Regions from separate parts of the Homo sapiens genome. Here region 2 is linked to region 1. Evidence: fine-mapped expression QTL. A gene starts in region 1. The other region holds a variant in brackets. All regions are shown on one strand. Distances are between the middles of the regions.

The links. PIP is the estimated chance that this variant, and not a neighbour inherited with it, causes the effect. A credible set is the group of variants that fine-mapping cannot tell apart.
Region 2: its variant is the best candidate, but not a certain one, in a credible set for the expression of PDCD6IP in whole blood (INTERVAL, PIP 0.57).

The regions. Positions count from the first base shown.
Region 1 is chr3:33,790,729-33,801,848 of GRCh38, reverse strand. PDCD6IP (programmed cell death 6 interacting protein) reads right to left here and starts at 3,219. Exons shown (of 18, transcript NM_013374.6): 1 at 2,912-3,219. The coding sequence starts at 3,120. PDCD6IP-DT (PDCD6IP divergent transcript) reads left to right here and starts at 3,330. Exons shown (of 2, transcript NR_183731.1): 1 at 3,330-3,454; 2 at 3,827-8,205. RefSeq lists enhancers at 2,523-3,056, 3,003-3,352.
Region 2 is chr3:33,855,873-33,863,872 of GRCh38, reverse strand. The region is part of intron 15 of PDCD6IP (programmed cell death 6 interacting protein); the gene reads right to left. Among named protein-coding and RNA genes, the nearest start is that of PDCD6IP, 61 kb to the right of the region's middle. The variant T/C (reference allele first, on the strand shown) is at 3,683.

The sequences.
Region 1 (11,120 bases):
TCTAAAGAAACTGATCACCACAAAAGAAATTACACAATGCTGGTAAATGGTATATCTGGAGCTTCAAATAAAATACAAAATAAAAATAAAAAACCAGCAGGGTTCCCATTTGATCACCCTAGGTCACCATTTACCAAGGTCTAATCAATTTTTAGTAAAAGCCACTTTATAAAGGAAGAAGTATCATATAAAAGGGTTTTTTGTTGTTGTTGTTTTGTTTTGTTTTGAGACAGCGTCTCAGTATGTAGTTCAGGCTGGTCTCCAACTCGTGGGCTCTAGTGATCCTTCTGCCTCAGCTGGAATTATGAGTGCATGCTACCACACCCAGAACAAATGAGTTTTTAAGTACTCATTCTCATTATTATAATATGCATAAATGTATATTTTAGGAAATTTTAATAGAACACCTACAAGTTAGTAATAAGAAAACAAGTCTATCACTGGAGCAATATATGGAGCTGCATATCAGGACTTATCAAGCTGGCTTCAATTATTTAGGAATTAGTTTAAACTCTGTTTTTCAAAGTTCATTAGTTTAAAAAGTTCATTAAGTTAAAAAATTAATGTTAAGTTTACACAATTATCCAAACATAATTATTAAAAATAAGATATTCTGCCGGATTTGAATGAACATCACACAACTGATTCACATCTAATTTTACAGCGTATATACCTACAAAACTTTTGTACCTACCTCCATTATAAACTTTAGTAATATCTCCAAGCTTACCCTAACCCCTCTAGAAGCCCAAAAAGTGAAAATACTTAATATTTGTTGAATTAATGTGGCAGGAGGGGATTATACAGAGGTGACTAAAGAAACATGGTTAGTTTCAAAGAGACTATATCTACAACAGGTCCACTACCTAGGAACAGTTCACACATTTAAGTCTGGTAAAAAGAATAAAGGAAGGAACAAATGAATTAAGTTTTAAAGTTGACAGGAGAACCGTATCCAAACCATTATCCACCAACCTCCCATGTCTGTTAGCTTAAAACCCATGCACCAAGTGCTTCTGAAGACCCCAAATCTGAGGGCTGGAACCAAATTTGATATATTCAACAAGATTTTTATCACAGGGCTCATTATACCACAACTATGTTTTCTTAATATTACTAATGGAAAATCCTCACTGAATGCTATTCATGCCTACATAAAAATTACCTTGAAATTGTTTAATTATGTTAATTCTAAAGAATGGCTAAGTATTTCTAGGTTAACTTTAAAAAAAATGCTTATGCTATTAGACTAATGATCCTTGCAGCCCAACAGTTGTAGCTCTAAAATTTGACACCAAGGGGTCTTAATTCCTCTGAGCAATCTATTCAGTACCCCTTCCTTCGGAGAACCAACCCTTCCCCAGTCCGGACTCATCTTGCTTTGATCCATGGGGTAAGGAGAAATTAAACCGGCTGGATGACTCAGATAAGGGCAATTAACTTAGCCCATTTCCCACCATCATAAATGGGTGCAAACAAACCCAGGAGCCTCCCATGGACTTCCACCAGAGCTAAGGAGAAAAGCACTCCCTTCTGTAAGATACTGAGTGTTGCGGACGATTGTTATTACACTACAGCCATCCCTCTCAATACATGAACAAAGCTTTCGAGGGAAGCATCACGGAGGCAAGACGATCTCCAGTGATACCTAAAGCTAAGGAAGGAATATCCCTAGACTTTTCAGTTAGCAGAATAAGTCTTACTTTTTTTTTTTTTTTTTTTTTTTTTTGAGATGGAGTCTCACTCTGTCGCCCAGGCTGGAGTGCAGTGGCGCGATCTCGGCTCACTGCAAGCTCCGTCTCCCAGGTTCACACCATTCTCCTGCCTCAGCCTCCCGAGTAGCTGGGACTACAGGCACCCGCCACCACGCCCGGCTAATTTGTTGTATTTTTAGTAGAGATGGGGTTTCACCGTGCTAGCCAGGATGGTGTCGATCTCCTGACCTCGTGATCCGCCCGCCTCGGCCTCCCAAAGTGCTGGGATTACAGGCGTGAGCCACCGCGCCCGGCAGAATAAGTCTTTTCTTAGCTCAAGCTAGTTTAGCCTGGGTTTCTGCTACTTGGATTGGAATACAATTGTGATTCTCCTGTGAAACAAGTAGAATATACTATACGGAGAAAACGAGATTAACAAGGTATGCAAAAGAAATGTTTAACTATAAAATCGTAAAAAATGTTCTTATAACTATTAAGTATCATGAAAGGAACCCTCATTAAATCAGCATGAGCTAAATAAGCGTTTGCTAAAATAACAAATTTACTCTACTGTGTATATATCTGTTTGTGAACAAACTGCTTTTAAACAACCTACCTTGAACGGTTCAACTATGTAACTAGAGTTTTATTTCAAATAGTTGTAGCTCCTAACTTTCAGAATTCTCCATCTATCATTTGATTATTTTGAACTGAGGAAGACGGTCCATTTCATGTGGACAATGTGATGAGCTGATCAGACATTTGGTCCAGTGTCCCAATTCCCCCACTTCCCCCACTGCCTTCAAGCAACTACTATTATGAAATCAAAATGTGGCCCAAGAAAGACAGTGATGGAAAAATGGGGCGAAAGGGGAAGCTTCAGTTAGAGACCCAAAAAAGTGAAGACTAGTTCTAAGTAAATGTGGCAAAAGAGATCAGTACAGGGCAGACTGCTGCTCCCAGGTATCTGATCCACGGAGCCCTCGCCGACCAAGGGCTAGAGCAGACGTGCAGGCAGGACAAGCGGGCAGTCACAGCGGGCCTGCAGGGCGGGTCCTGCTCACCAGCAAAGAATGCAGACCACACCTACGCGCCTGGTCAGGCCGGGACGGGGCGGCTCCGCCCAGGTTACAGGATTGAAGGAAGGGGGGAGACGGGAAGAGGAGCGGCGAGCGACGGCTGGCAGACAACCTACCCACTCCCAGCCCCGCGCCCACCTCAGGAGCGTCTCGAGCGCGCCCTCGTGCTTGTCCAGCGGACGACCGACTGCGGCGCGGCGCAGCTTGCTGAGCTCCTCCGCCGCGCGGCAGTACTGGGCCTGCTCTTCCCCGCCGCTTGGGTAAGTCTGCTGGATGAACTTCACCAGCGGCTTGGCCAGGTCCACCTCTGAGGTCTTTTTCAGCTGCACCGAGATGAATGTCGCCATGATCAGCGCCTCCGCCGCCGTTCGGGCCAAACAGACCGCGGACAGCTTACGAGGGCCGAGGAGAGAGAGGTACTGGGCTGGCGGACTGGCGGACTGACTGGCTGACAGACTTGCGCTCCGCCTGCGTTCCGGGTCCGGCAACTTCCGGGAGCTCCAGCGCAGGCGCACTGGATGCGGGGTCCTTAAGCTGTCCGCGGTCACGTGAAGGTGTCGCGGCGGCTACGCCCACCTGGACCCAGTTTACCCTGTACTGTGCTGCAAAATATTACTTTCTCCCCATCTGGAATTCTTCCCTTCCTCCTTCCTGCCGCAGTGGTGTACTGAGCACTTTCACGTAAGAGTATTCCTCCACTCGAACAACCCCCCGGAGAAGTACTGGTGTCACTGCCACCTGCGAGAGTTTGCGGCTACCTCCCCAAGAGGCAGTCCCAGGGTTATTGTGACCTATGATGTTTATTCAACTACTGTTGACGGGCTGCTGTGCACAGGGAACCTAGTAGGCAAGACCCCTGCCATCGTGCAGCTTACTGTCAGGTTGACACAGACCTTAAGGTAAACGGAAAAAGTATCAGGAAAAAAACAGGGTGCTTGGGACTTAGGAGATGTTAAGATCGCTTGGAGGACCCTAATTTAAATAAGATAAAGTAGGTTTTCTCCGAGTAGGTTAACTGAAAATGAACCTGTGTCTCTGGTTGCTGTTTTGTAGAAAGAACAAAATTTTAAATAAATTAAAAACGACACCTGTAATTTGAGAAGATGCTTGATATCAGAAGAGGAGAAGAGTGGAGAGGGGTGGAGTGGCAAAGGAGAGCCTCCAAACCAAAAGCCTGCGGCAGAGGCCCTAGGAGGCAAGCACTTAACCATGTTTCAGGACTAGAAACGAAACATGTGACAAGACCTTTAAAAACAAATAGAATGGGATGGAATAAAGTTGGATGAGTAAGCAGGCATCAAATCATTCAGAAACTTGTTGTCCAAGTTGAAGAATTTGTTTAGTATTGTATAATAAATGCAGAGGAAGCTATATACACTTATAATTTACATTTTTTAAAGGCCACGTTGTAGCTCAATCGGATAGTTTGTCTTTTGATGGGATGTAGTATACAGTATCATCATGGTATATTCCAGGCAAAAATATTTAACTTGAATCTGTCAAGCCTTTGCATCTAACACAGTTTATAAAAAATACAACAGATAGATGAACAAACTAAATGATGCCAGAGGAAGTAACTAGACAGATCCAGAAGGTGAAACATTCTGCAGGATAACTGGCCCATCTCTTCAACAATTTGTCATGATAAAAGCAACTGCTTTATGAAAAGAAATTTAAGGGACATAACAGTTTGAATTGGATCCTGGTTTGAACAGACTGTCTATAAAATGCATTTTCAGGACCATTAAAGAAATATGAATGTAGATGGACTGAGTATTGGATAAAATAGAACTGTATTGCCATGGAAAAGATCATTAACTGAAAAGAGCAAGTCACGAAATAGTATGTTACAGCATCTCATTTTGGTTTAAAAATGCACATATATGTATTTATGTACAACTAAAAAAATAGTGGGCTTATACCCTAAGGTGTTAGTATTGGTAATCTTTGGAAGTGGAAATGTGTATTTTTTTCTTTGTGTTTGCCTATCTTTTTCATTGTAACTTTTGCAGCACATAGACTACTTTCATTATAGTAAAAGTTTATTTTACCACAATTTTTTTTTTTTTAGAAAGAGTCTCACTCTGTCACCCAGGCTGGAGTGCAGTGGCACAATCTCAGCCCACTGCAACCTCCACCTCCCAGGTTCAAGCTATTCTCCTGCCTCAGCCTTCTGAGTAGCTGGGACTACAGGTGCACACCACATGCCTGGCTAATTTTTGTATTTTTAATAGAGACTGGATTTCGCGATGTTGGCCCGGCTGGTCTCGAACTCCTGGCCTCAAGTGATCCACCCGCTTTAGCCTCCCAAAGTGCTGGGATTACAGGCGTGAGCCACTGCACCCGGCCTATTTTACCACAATTTATAAAAATTTTTGTTTATTTTAATTAAGCTATTCTATGTTAAAATAAGTAGCCACCCTTGGCTGATGCATAAAGAAAAAATTAGAGGAAGGAAAGAATGGAGGCAAGGAGGCAAATCATGAGACCATTTCAGAAATCAAGACGAAATCAGGAAAGCTAACATTAGCAAGAGTGAACCAAACTGATAATATCTTTGAGTTTAAAACTGAAGAATTTACCAATGAACTGCATAGGAAAGTAAAGAAAAGAGAGTGGTCAAGATAGGTCCTGGTTTTGGGGCCTGAACATCTGAGTGGTTAGTAGAATCATTACCAGTTGATAACCCATGGAAGAGGGTGGGGGATGGGTGGTGTCTTGTAGGTTGGTTGACAGGACTGACCCATTGGGAAGATAACGAAGAAGCAAAGTATATGAAAAGAGGAGAAAGGGTAACCAGAGGAGGGAGGATACAAAGGGAGTGATTAGCCATCAGAAAGATGAGGGACATGACATTTGTTGAGGCAGATGGCGGAGAAAAGAAAGTTAACATAGATGTGGTTAGTTTTGTGGCATTGACCAAAGGAAGATTAAGGTGATACTATCTGATGGCTTGGAATGAAAACCAAACTCCCTGCCACAACATGATGATCTTTCTCTGCAACTTCATATTTTGCCTCTTGTTCCTCATTTGTTACCACTGAGTCACAATGGTCTTTTTAGTTTCTCAAACACACCAAGATCTTTCTTGCCTCATGTGACCTAGAATGTTTTCTCCCTTTCTTCATATCTCAGTTGAAAGGTCTCCTCTCCTCATCATCATACTATCTAAAGTAGATTCCCTCCCTTGTTAACCTCTAGCGCAGCCATTAGTTCCTTCATAACACTTACCCTAACTTGCAAGTATTTTGTTTGTTGATATAATTTTTATCTGACTTCCCCACTAAAATGTAAGCTCCATGAGGGCAAAAATTGTGTGTTTTGTATACTGATGCATCTCTAGCACTTGGTATAGCAGGCATTCAATAAATATCATTAAATAAGTTTCACCCTTGTAAAAAAAAAAAATATATATATATAAAATATATTCTCTACTTCCAAAATAACACACTTTCACCAACAACAAGCACTCCAGCTAATTAGGCAATAGGCCAATAAGCAAAGAATTATGGTATATTAGTCAAGATTGGCTAGCTTATGTTCTGACAATAAACAATTTCAAAATCTCAGTTTCAATTTTAAACTCAAAGATACTAATAAACATTTGTTCTTTGCTCACACAAAGTCTAATATGGAACAGGCTTAGAGTTGTCCTCCAACCAGTGTCTGAGCAATCCAGACCACTTTGATCTTGTAACTCTGCCATCCCAACATGAGATTCCACTTTCACTGCAGAAGAGGAAATCTGTAGCATCATGCAGCAGCTTGTCACTACCTCAGCCCTCCTACTTCCACTTGCATTTCACTAGCTAGAACCTTTCACATGGCTCCACCAAACTGCAATGGGACTGGGAAGGGAGAATCAGATATTAGGGAGCATTTATAATGCCTTCCAAGGGTGTGTTTCACTGCTTCCAAACTTGCTTATGATGATGTTTTTCATTTATGTAATGAAATGCCATATGTTCTTAGTGTGTATTCTCAGCATAACGAGTACATTTGGAGAATATTAAGTCAGTGGACTTTCCTTCTTGAAAATTCCTGGTTCTGGGCCTATCATTAACCCCACTGATTGAACCAGTGGAAATAGTTGCCTCTTCGAATGGAGAGAACCCTGCTGAAGGCAGCTTTGAGTTTCAAAATAGTGTGTTTCAAGTCCACATGGAGACGATAGCCTGAAAGTAAGCACTTATGATTTTTGGAGGAGTCTTTGTTATTAAGGAGAAAAGAGGCTTACAGAAGTCAGATTCAGAAGACTGTAGTATTTTTACAATAAATGAGAGTAAACAGTATAAGGATTTGATGTAAGGGAAGTTCCTGCAGTGCAAGAAAGAAAGTCCTTTTGGTGCTGAGCGGAACAGTCTAAGAGAGAAAAGGTGAAGAACAAAAGGAAAATGTAAATGTGGTATTCACACTTCCCTACTCCACACTCAGGATAAACCTAGAGTATGAGGTAGAGGCGGGAATCTAGAGGGGAGGAAGCATAGAATAGGAACACCCAAATAGACTTGATGAAACAAAAAACATCAAGGATGGCTCCCGTGTCACCTGGGAAGACACACTTCATGTAAGGAATGGAAAAAAGGCAATGGTAAGGGACAGGGGCCCTGGATTTTTTACAACATGCGATAGAGAACTATTTGTCTCCTTAATTTATTTAACTTTAAAAAATAATAATGAATGAAAGAAAAATTACCCATTTTTCAAATATGGGTGTGTAAGTTTTTTCCACTTTGTACAAAAAATTTTAAAGAAACGAAAACTGCTGAACACCTTATATTCAGAATTACTCCCTGTATAAGCCCATTCCAATTCCATATACTGCTGATTAAATTTCCATCAGTTGGCAGTTCTCTAATATCAGTTTCACTGCTATTTAACTAACTACTGCCCTTTGCTACCAGTGTCTCTCTTGGATGAGAGTCACTTTACTTGAATAAGATAACTTCTGAGAATAAATCTATGCACTATTTTGGAAGAATTGCTCTATAGAGTAAAAAATAATTCTGGATAATTGAAAGTTATCTTGTGAGTATCTGGACATTAAGGATACATTTCAAGACTCCTGTTTTCACTAAAATCCAATATTTGTTTAAGCACTTCAAGTTAAAGAGGAGCACCTTCCCCTTTCACCCTGACTATCGTTGTTAATTCGTTTTTGAAGCTATATAAGAACGTTTCTTTAATCGGTTTTCCCTTAGGCATACATTAGCTCTCTGTTCAAGACTTAGTAGCAGAGAGTAGTAAGTAAATGGTTATTAGTGGTTCTTCATATAAAACACATTTGAGTTTCTTAGAAGAAAACTATGCATAAAGATTACTTTCAGATATCATGTCTGTAGTTCGTTAATAGAGAAGTTTCTCTGAACGTGTGGAACACTGTAATAAGATAAATAAATTTTTAAAAAGAAAAAGTAAGCATATATACAAAATGTATGTAATTTCATTTGTCTTCACTTATTTAATATTTATAACCATACATTAAATGAAAACCAAATCCTACAAGCTTCATGGTACAAAGTTTTGGTAATACTTGGATGACCAGACTAAGTTATTCAGCAGATATTTTTTGAGCTTATACTGTGTGCCAAACAAAATGTAGTTCAAGAGAATTCTATGACCAATCTATTAATCTATTGTATATATTTACAGAGGTCTTTAATCCACCCTTATATAAGGTAGTTCAGCAAACAGTTCATAGGAGGAGGTCTAGGAAAGCAGTTAAGGAAAGTCCTAAAATGGCAGCTCTGCAGCAAGCAGAAAGTACAACTAGCCCAGAATAAGGAGAGGGTGGAGGGGCGCAGGAGGAAGATCCAATAGAGGGAAAAAAAAGGTTGAAGGGATTAGATAGAATAAAAACCACCAGGGTTCTCGTTGGAAAAATTATTCTTTTCCCTTTGTAATTAACAACTAATTTGTGGGAATATAATTCGAGGCTATTAAACATACTGTTCCACATTAAACTTTCTTCCACTAGTTTTAGCATACTTCGATGATTCTTCCATGAATCTAATATTTCTGTGATGATTGCAAAATGGTAATTTTCTTATCCATTATTCTGCCTATATCTATTAGCTGACATTATTCTAGAAAGAAGAATTTTCTTTTCTCCCTTATTTATTCATTTATATGTTTATACCAGCATGGACCCATAGATTTTTATTTAATTTGGTAGATTATAATCTGTTATTATTATTTATTTTGACGCTCAGATTGTCCAAGATTTGACTGATATGAACACCCTCAAGCTGGCTCCTGTGTTCTTTTTCTTCCAATATTTTCTTTTCTTTTCTTTTCTCTTCTTTTCTTTGTTTTTTTGTTTTGTTTTTTTGAGACAGGGTCTGGCTCTTTTGCCCAGGCTGGAGTGCAGTGGTGCAGTCATGGCTCACTACACCCTCAACCTTCCAGGCCCAGGCTCAAGCAATTATCCTACCTCAGCCTCCCAAGTAGCTAGGACTACAGGTGCACACTACCATGCCCGGCTAATTTATTTGTTTATTTTTTGTAAAGACGGAATATCCCTATGTTGCCGAGGCTGGTCTCAAACTCCTGGACTCCAGGGATTCTCCTGCCTCAACTTCACAATTCATTTTTAAAATTTCAGCCACAGCATAGAGTTTTGCAATAAACACTCACCTACCCACCACCTAGATTCTAACATTAACATTTTACTATGCATGCTTTATCTCACATTTGTCCATCTAATCTTCCCTCTATCCACCCATAAATCTACCTTGCTTTTTGGATCCATTTCATAGTAAGTTGCAGTCATCAGAAAGGAAAAGTAAAATAAGTAAATTTATTGGTAAATAGGCAATTGATGGGAGTCAAAAGATATTTAAATGATATCAATGAATGTCACTTAAAGTTAAAAAATCGAATAGCAGAAGGAGGTAAAGAAAAAAGGAAGTAAAGAAAAAGACTTTTAAAATGACTCACAAAAGAAAACCCAATGTGATAGATTATAAAATTGGCCACAAACTCTTCCTCTCCCTTTATCATGATTTTGCAGTGTGACATTGCAGATCTTCCCACCAGGAAGTGGAGTCTTTTTCTGCACCCTTTAAGTCTAGGTCGTTGATGTGAGCTGCTTTGGCCAATGGGGCATTAGCAGTTGTGATGCAAGCAGACACTTCAGTCATCAGGGTTTGTCCTCTCTTACTGCACTTGCAACCCCGTGACCTCCATGTGTACCGTCTTGCCTGCTGGATTATGAGAGACGTGGTTGAGTCACTCTCCTAGCCCTAACCAACAGTCTGCTAATTGTCAGACATATGAACAAGGCTATCTTAGATCATCCAACAACCAGGCAACACCCTAGATGACCTCAGACACAGAAGCAAGCACCTGAGAGATCAACTGAGCCAATCTAGACCAGAACTGTTAAGCCAACCTACAGAATTATGAGCTAAATAAATGGCTGGTTTTTAAGTTTTGGCATGGTTTGTTATGCAACAGAAGCTAACTGATACACTATCATTATGGTACATGCAAGCAACATACCTAAAACAAAATGATTCAGAAAGGCTAAATAGAAAGGAATAGACAGACATACTAGGTGCTGTGGACTGAATGTGTACCCCCAACAGTCACTTCTTGAAATTCAGTTCCAAATGCGATGGTATTTGGAGGTGGGACCTTTGGAAGGTAATTAGATTGTGAGCACAGAGCCCTCATGAATAGGATTAGTGCCCTTCTAAGAAGAGACGCAACAGCACTTGCTTCCTCTCTCACTCTGCTATGTGAGGATACAGTAAAAAGGTGTCTATATGCAAAGCAGTAAGAGGGCACTCACCAAAACCCAATCATGCTGGTACCCTGCTCTTAGACTTCACATCCTCCATAACCGTAAGAAATAAATGTTGTTGAAGCCACCCAATCTATAACAGCTTGAACTAACTAAAACACCAGACAAATGGAAACAATAGGAGTGCAGGGTCGTTCTTTTGATATCAGACAATTCAGACCAAAAAGGCTTAAATGTAATTAAGGACATTTCATAATGCTAAAGGCTAAAATTATCCAGAAAAAAAAATGTAGCTAAAAGCCACAATAAAGATAAGAGTTTGAAATATCAAACTTTTGTATCAGCTAACCCAAAATATCTGTGTACCAAGTAACACAGCAACCACCATCATAAAAAAGAAACTATGGGATTACATTTCCAAGTAATAATTTCTTATCTTTGGCCAACTCTGTGAGTAGCTAAGGGAATTTTAAAAAGTGTTACTCAGGGATGATCCAAAGAAGATACATTTGGAAGCAAGATAGGTGGATTAAGTCTGTGCTGAATAATAATTTGTCATACCTCATTATAAGAGATGTGGCCATGGCCAGGCGTGGTGGC
Region 2 (8,000 bases), 64 kb before region 1:
TACATTTCAAATTAGTACAGTGACTATGGAAAACAGTATGGAGGTCCCTCAAAAAACTAAAACTAGATCTACAATATGATCCAACAATCCCACTGCTGGGTATATATCCTAAAGAAAGGATATCCATATACTGAAGAGATATCTGTATTCCCATGTTTATTGCAGCACTTCCAACAGCCAAAATATGAATGCAACCTAAGTGTCCATCAGCAGATAAATGGATATAGTGTAGTATATATACACCATGGAATATTATTCAGCCATAAAAAATATAATGAAATTCTGTCATTTGCAGCAACATGGATGGAACTGGAGGCCATCATGATAAGTGAAATAAGCCAGGCACAGAAAGACAAATATTGCATGTTCTCCTCCATATGTGTGAGCTAAAAACAAGGAGACAGAGTAGAATGATGGTTACTAGAGTCAAGAAAGAGTAGGGGGTGGGGATGAAGAGAGGGTGGATAATAGGTACAAAAATACAGTCAGAGAGAATAAATAAGTTCTAGTGTTTAATAGCAGCATAGGGTGATGATAGTTAATGATAATTTATTGTATATTTCAAAATAGCTAGAAGATTTGGAATGTTCCCAACACAAAGAAATGATAAACGTTTGAGATGAATATCCTAATTGCCTTGATTTGATTATTATGCATTGTATTCATGTATCAAAATATCACATGTGCCCCACAAATATGTGATGAATATCCTAATTACCCTGATTTGATTATTACACATTGTATTCATGATCAAAGTATCACATGTACCCCATAATATGTATAATTATTTATCAATATAACAAAAACTGAAAAAAACAAAATATACTACATTTTTATTCTTGACTAGAATCTAAATCCTCTTTCTTCCTATTGTTTAATAAAATGAAGTTGTATCTTTTTTATATTTCTGAAGACTGGGGGAAAAAGTAAACATTTTCAGAGATCACAGTTACAGCTAGAGTAAGAAACGTGTCAAACTGGGCAAGTAATCCTAAAAGACTGCCCACCCTCTAATAAAAGGTAGTCCCTGGATTTAAAAAACTCCTAACATCATCTATCTAAAAGTTATCAGAAAACTACAGTGACTCATAGTTATGTAGCTAATGTTTTAATCACTATATCAGTGTTTATACAAAATAAAACAGGTGAAAAGGCTAACCTTTTATGCAAACCATTATGCAAATTTCTAGATAAAAACTTCCTGAAGATATTCAAAGAAATGTGGCGTTGAAATATTTTATATTAAAAGATAACACATCACCTGTCACTAAGATAAACTCATGAAAGATATATTGCTGAAAATACTATTACAATTTAGTATTAAATATTAGAAAATTCTGTCTCCTCTAACAGTAAATTGAAATTTATCCCAAAATCACACTAAACAATACCTAAGGTAAAATGCACTCCATGTAATACATGATGTCAATCATCTTTTCACTGCACTGATTAACGTACACAAAGAAGTAAATATGACATGTCCCAAAACATCTGAGACAGTACCTTTTGCCCTGATTTAACAATTAACAGCAAAGCCCCACACTGTCCGCATCCAACCTTCCCTCTCAAGAAGGGCCCCAGTCACTCCAGACATAAAGAAAACTAGTATACATTCATCAAAAAAAAAAAACAAAACTACTTCTTAAGTAAATAACTGCTTATAAAATAAATAAGTTTTTAATCAATATCAAAATTCTAAAAGGCCAGATTTTGAAATATCTAAAATATATACGTATATTATAAAGCTTTAACACAATACCTTTCTTTTCCTTTGATAAACTCTAGGGATGGTTGCAGTAAATAACACATTTATAGAGCAAATGATAATTTCCTAGCCACTTATAAAAGATATAAATCAATGCTATTAAATAAAATCAATAATGTAAAAGAGCAAAAAGATATAAAATAAAATGCCACTAGTACTATGCCCAACAACCTGACAGTAGTATTCAAACCATTAGTCAAAAGAAAGTAAAGCTCAGAGTAAAATATTCATTCTTCTTAAACGCTTTAAACTTCTGATGAAAGATTTCAATGAAAACAGAAATTAAAAAGCAAAGCCTCCAGCTAATAAGTATATAAAAAGGACATATTAGTCATCAGGAAAATGAAAAATTAAAATCATACAATGAGATAATACTACAAACCCAGCAGAATAGCTAAGGGCAAAAATGTGGAGCAACCAGGACTCTCATATATTGCTAGGAGGAATATAAATTAGTACAATCACGTTGGAAAACTATTTGACAATATCAACTGAGCATACACACATATCCTTTGACCTCGATATATACCCAACAGCACTGCATATAACATGCTCACCAAAAGCATGTACTGTCTAATACAGTAACCATTAGCCACACATGACTATCAAACATCTGAAATGTGGCTACTCTGAATTGAGATGTGTTGTAAGTATAAAATACATATTAAGCCGGGCTCGGTGGCTCACGCCTGTAATCCCAGCACTTTGGGAGGCCGAGGCGGGTGGATCAGGAGGTCAGGAGTTCAAGACCAGTCTGGCCAAGATGGTGAAACCCGTCTCTACTAAAAATACAAAAATTAGCTGGGCTTGGTGGTGGGCGCTTGTAATCCCAGCTACTCGGGAGGCTGAGGCAGAGAATTGCTTGAACCCAGGAGGCGGAGGTTGCAGTGAGCCGAGATCGTGCCACTGCACTCCAGCCTGAGCGACAGAGCAAGACTCCATCTCACAAAAAAAAAAAAATACAGATTAGATTTCTAAGACTTAGTGTGAAAAAAAGTAAAATATCTCTCATTTGTAATTTTACATTGATTATATGTTAAAATAATACTTTGGACATACTGGGTTAAATGAAATATTGAAATTAATTTCACCTGTTTTTTTTTTTTTAACTACGGCTACTACAAATTTTACATTTTCAATTGCATATGTCACTGCATAGTACTTCACCATATAGATGTAGTTTTATTTAATTAACCAGAACCAGACATTTGACTTGTTTCCATATTTTTACTGCTACCAGCAATACTGGACAGCAGTGATTTACAACATTCATGCCAGCACTATTTATAAAAGCTCAAAACTGGCAACTACTCAAAATATTCAACAGTAGAATAAATAACTTGTACATTCACATAATAAAATATATGCAGAAATGAGAATAAAAGATCTACAAATACACACAACTATACTGATGAATCTCACAAATATAATGTAGAATAAAAGCCAGTCATGGAAGAGTACATAATATGTGATTCTATTTATATACAATGCAAAAACAGGAGAAAGTAATCTATGTTCTTACAAGTTAGGATAGCGGTTGCCCTGGAAAAGAAAGATAAAGACTGACTGACTGGGTGGATGCATTAACAATGCTTTTAGGGTGCTGAGAATTTTCTGTGTATTGATTTAAGTGCTGGTTGCCTGGGTGTACGCAGTTTGTGAACATTCAACAAGATACACACTTATGTATACTTTTCCGGTATACATTATATCCAGTAAGATTTCAAAGGATTTTGGCCTTCAGTATTAACAACGACTTTAACAAAATAAACTCTCAGATATTCAAAAGCTAATATTATTATATGGCCTACTTTTCCATCTTTCATTCACCTTTCAATCACTGAGCTGAAAATACTTGACAAGTGTAAATAAAATATATACTTGTTTACAACAAACCTGATTTTTAAATTAGATATA[T/C]GAAATATAAAATATTTTAAATGACGATATTCCAATCTTTCTTCCTTAGAATATCCAGAGCTTCCTTGTGCGTAAACAAGCCAATTTCTATATTTGTTATTTTCTTCCTTTTTACACAAAACATACTCTACACACTGTTCTGTGTCTTTTTACCATAACTATCTTGGAGATCTTTCCATATCAGTAAATTGAAAACACCCTGATTTTTAAAATAGCTGCACAGCATTTCACTATACAAGTATAGCTTTATTTCACCAGCCCTGGTCACTTTGTTTCTACTTTTTTACTGCTATTTGCAATGTAGAAATGAATAAGCTCATAAATATGTCATTTCTAGCATATTCTAATATATCCTCAGAATAGACTCCCAAAAACAGAATGGCTGGATTAAAGGATGTTTGAATTTGCAGTCTTATTATTCTTTACAGCTAAAATGCCCAACACAAGGATTGCACCATTGGGTATTCTCACGGCAATGTATGAAATCTATTTCTCCAACATGTGACAACAAAGCATATTATCAAACTTTCAGATTCTTGCCAATCTGAAAAATATTACTTCAGACTAATTTTAATTTGTATTTTATAATGAATGAGGGTATTCATTTTTTTTCATTTATTTAAGAGCCATTTGTATTTCCTTGTCTGCAAAATTCTGTTTGCGTCTTCTCCTCAGTTTTCTATTGGGTTTTCTTCTCGTTCACTTCTAGGAGTTCTTTTCTAAATAAAGTAAATTAGCCTTTTGCCTGTGAATAAGTTTCAAATATTGGATTCCCAATTTGTCATATCCTGACTCTGTTTATCATATTTCTATGAGAAACTTATTCTTTTCTTTTTTTTTAATGGCTTCTGGATTTTAAGTAGGAGTTATTAGATCCTGCTCATCCCAGCTTTATTACGGAATTCTCCTCCATTCTATTTTACACCTTATATTTCATTTACAAATTTCAAGTTTGGTCCACTCAGAACTTACTCTGGTATAAAGATAACTTTTATTTTCTAAATGGCTGGGCAGTTGTCCACCTCTTCTGGTTGGCTGAAGATCTTTTACACTAAATTCACGTATGTATTTGAATCTATTTCTATTTTCTATTCTGTCTTTGTCTAATCATGTACCAGTACCACTGTGTTTTAATTAAATATGGTATTATATACCTTAATATCTGGTAGAACTAGTATTCCTTCACTACTCTTTTTATTGTTTTCCTGGCTGACCTTGTTTCTTTTTCTACTTGAACTTTAGGATCAACTTGTCTAATTCCAAATGAAAAGCTGCTGATTTTTTTTAATCAAAAGCATGTTTGCATATCAAAAGCATGTTTGCATATCAAAAGCATATGAATGCATGTTTATTTCTTTTGTTTTGTTTTGTTTTTGTTTTTGAGACAGAGTCTCACTCTGTTGCCCAGGCTGGAGTACAGTGGTGCAATCTCAGCTCACTGCAAGCTCCGCCTCCCGGGTTCACGCCATTCTCCTGTCTCAGCCTCTCGAGTAGCTGGGATTACAGGCGCCCGCCACCACGCCCAGCTAGTTTTTTGTATTTTTAGTAGAGACGGGGTTTCACCGTGTTAGCCAGGATGGTCTCGATCTCCTGACCTCGTGATCCGCCCGCCTCAGCCTCCCAAAGTGCTGGGATTTCAGGCGTGAGCCACCGCGCCTGGCCGCATATGTTTATTTCTTTATTTATGTTTGTTATTAGAGATAGGGTCTCACTGTTGCCCAGACTGGAGTACAGTGGCTATTTACGGTACAATCATAGCGCACTACAACCTAGAACTCTAGGGCTCAAACCATCCTCCCACTTCAATCTCCCAAGTAGCTGGGACTAGAAGTGCATGCCATCACGCCCAGTTGATGCATAAGTTAACTTAGAATTGACATCTTTATGAAGTTGAGTCATCCTGTCCAAGAACATGTTTTTTAACTTGCTCAAGCCTTCTTTTTGAAATACTGTTTTCTTCACATAGGTCTCATATATGACAAACTTATATTTTATATTTTATCCTTTTTGTTGCTACTGTAAGTGGGTCTCTTCATCTTATCCTCTATAGGTTTATTTACATGAAAGCCACTGATTTCTACAAATTATTTTTATGATCAACAACTTCAGTAATAATAATTTTATTATTTGCAGAGTTTTGGGGTTCTCTTGGGTTTTCAAGTAGTTGTACAATCATAATGTCTGTAAATAGTGCTAGTTTTACTTCTTCCTTTCCAATTTTTTAATTTCTCTCTCATGTGATTGTCTTGGCTGGTACTGCAGTATAGTATTTAAAAATAGTGCTGACAGTGACATTTGTTGTCTGTTCTTGACTTCAGAGGGAACTGTTTATAGTGCTTCTCCATTAATCACTATACTGAGTTTTGGGCAGAAATATATACACACACATACATATATATATTTTCATGTTACGGAAGCATCTATCTTCTATCTATTCTTATTTTACTGAGTATCAGAACACTCATTTTCTCAAATGCTTCTGCCTCATCTATTAAGACAAACCTGTGATCTTTCCTTTGATGTGAAAATACTGAATACTGAAACTGGAATAAATGCCCCCCTCCCCTTGGTCAATAATTATTTTTTAACGTCCTGGTGACTATTACTGGCAAATACTTTATTTAGGACTTCTGCATCCATATTCATAACTGAAACTGGTCTGTAGACTGTTTTGTATTAATCTTTGTTAGGTTTTTTTATCATTAAGACTAATATGGAGAATACTCATCTTTTTTTAGGCTGGGGGGGTGGCTCACCCCTATAATTCCAATTACCTGAGGTCAGGAGTTCGAGACCAGCCTGGCCAACATGGTGAAACCCTGTCTCTACTAAAAATACAAAAATTAGCCAGGCGTGGTGGTGCACACCTGTAATGCCAGCTACTTAAGAAGCTGAGGCAGAAGAACTGCTTGAACCCGGGAGGCAGAGGTTGCAGTGAGCCAAGACTGCACCACTGCACTCCAGCCTGGGCGACAGAGCAAAACTCCATCTAAAAAAAAATCACCTTTTTTTAAACATTTAGAACCATTTTTAAAACATTCTAATTATTTGCTTTTTATAGGTTTAGTAGAAATATTCTAAAAACAACTAACCTGCTCTTTGTTAGAGGTAGAAGAAAATAACTTCTCTCATGAACATGAGCAGAGAGGTGAATGAACATGAACATGTTCATTCTCTGTTCATGAATATGAACAGAGAGATGAATAAAGATCTAGTTGGCTGAAAGGGTCATCGGTATAAGACTCTTTCAGCTCTTTATATTTATTACTAATGAATATATGGCTTTTTATGTACCCAAAAGACAGTCTGGATATAAAATCTTTAGCATGTATTTACTATATGATATAAAATCTTTAGCTCATATTTACTATCCTTGAGATTACAGCAATCACTCCACTCTCTTCTGGCATACAGAGCTGCCAGCCTAATTTTTTTCACCTTTTTATAAACTGGCTTGACTGTTTTGCCTGACTGCCTAAAGGATTCTGCCATTATCTTTTAAGGCCAATAATTTATATGCCTTGATGCTGACAGTTCTTGTCATTTTCCCCTACCATATGATATCCTCTTTCAACAATCTTCACTTAAGAAAATGTTCTTGAGTATCATTAAATAAGTGTTCTGTTTACAGAACGTTAAATAACTGTTCTATCTGGTTTTTCTTCTGAGAGAAATTCAGTTTTGCCTATATTAGATCTTCTGTGCCCATTTTCTCTCTAATTCTTTCTTGACTTTGGTTTCATTTTAATTTCCTCATTTCTACTCTGTGTTCCTGTGTGTTCTTTAGTGTTTATTCGCCCTTTGTGCTCTTTCCCATGTCACGGTTTTATTCTTCCCTTCTACTTCTTTCCTGAATTCTGACACCTCACATCTTATCACTTCCTGTTTTCTTACCATATTCCTGCAGTTCTGGAATTTCTGCTCAAAGTGTTCCTTAGAGGAGCAGTCCCCAACCTTTTTGGCACCAGGGACCGGTCTCATGGAAGACAATTTTTCCACAGGGGAGCGGAAGATGATTTCAGGATGAAACTGTTCCACCTCAGATCATCAGGCATTAGTCAGAGTCTCATAAGGAATGCACAACCTAGATCCCTTACACGGGCAGTTCACAATAGAGTTTGCGCTCCTATGAGAATCTAATGCTGTGGCTGATCTGACAGGAGGTGGGGCTCAGGCAGTAATACTCGCCCAGCTGCCCGCCTGTCTGCCACCCACCTCCTACTGTGCAGCCCAGTGCCTAACAGGCCACGAACCAGTACCAGTCCAAGGCCCCAGGATTGGGGACCCCGGCCTTAGAATGATTGCCTCCTTACATTTG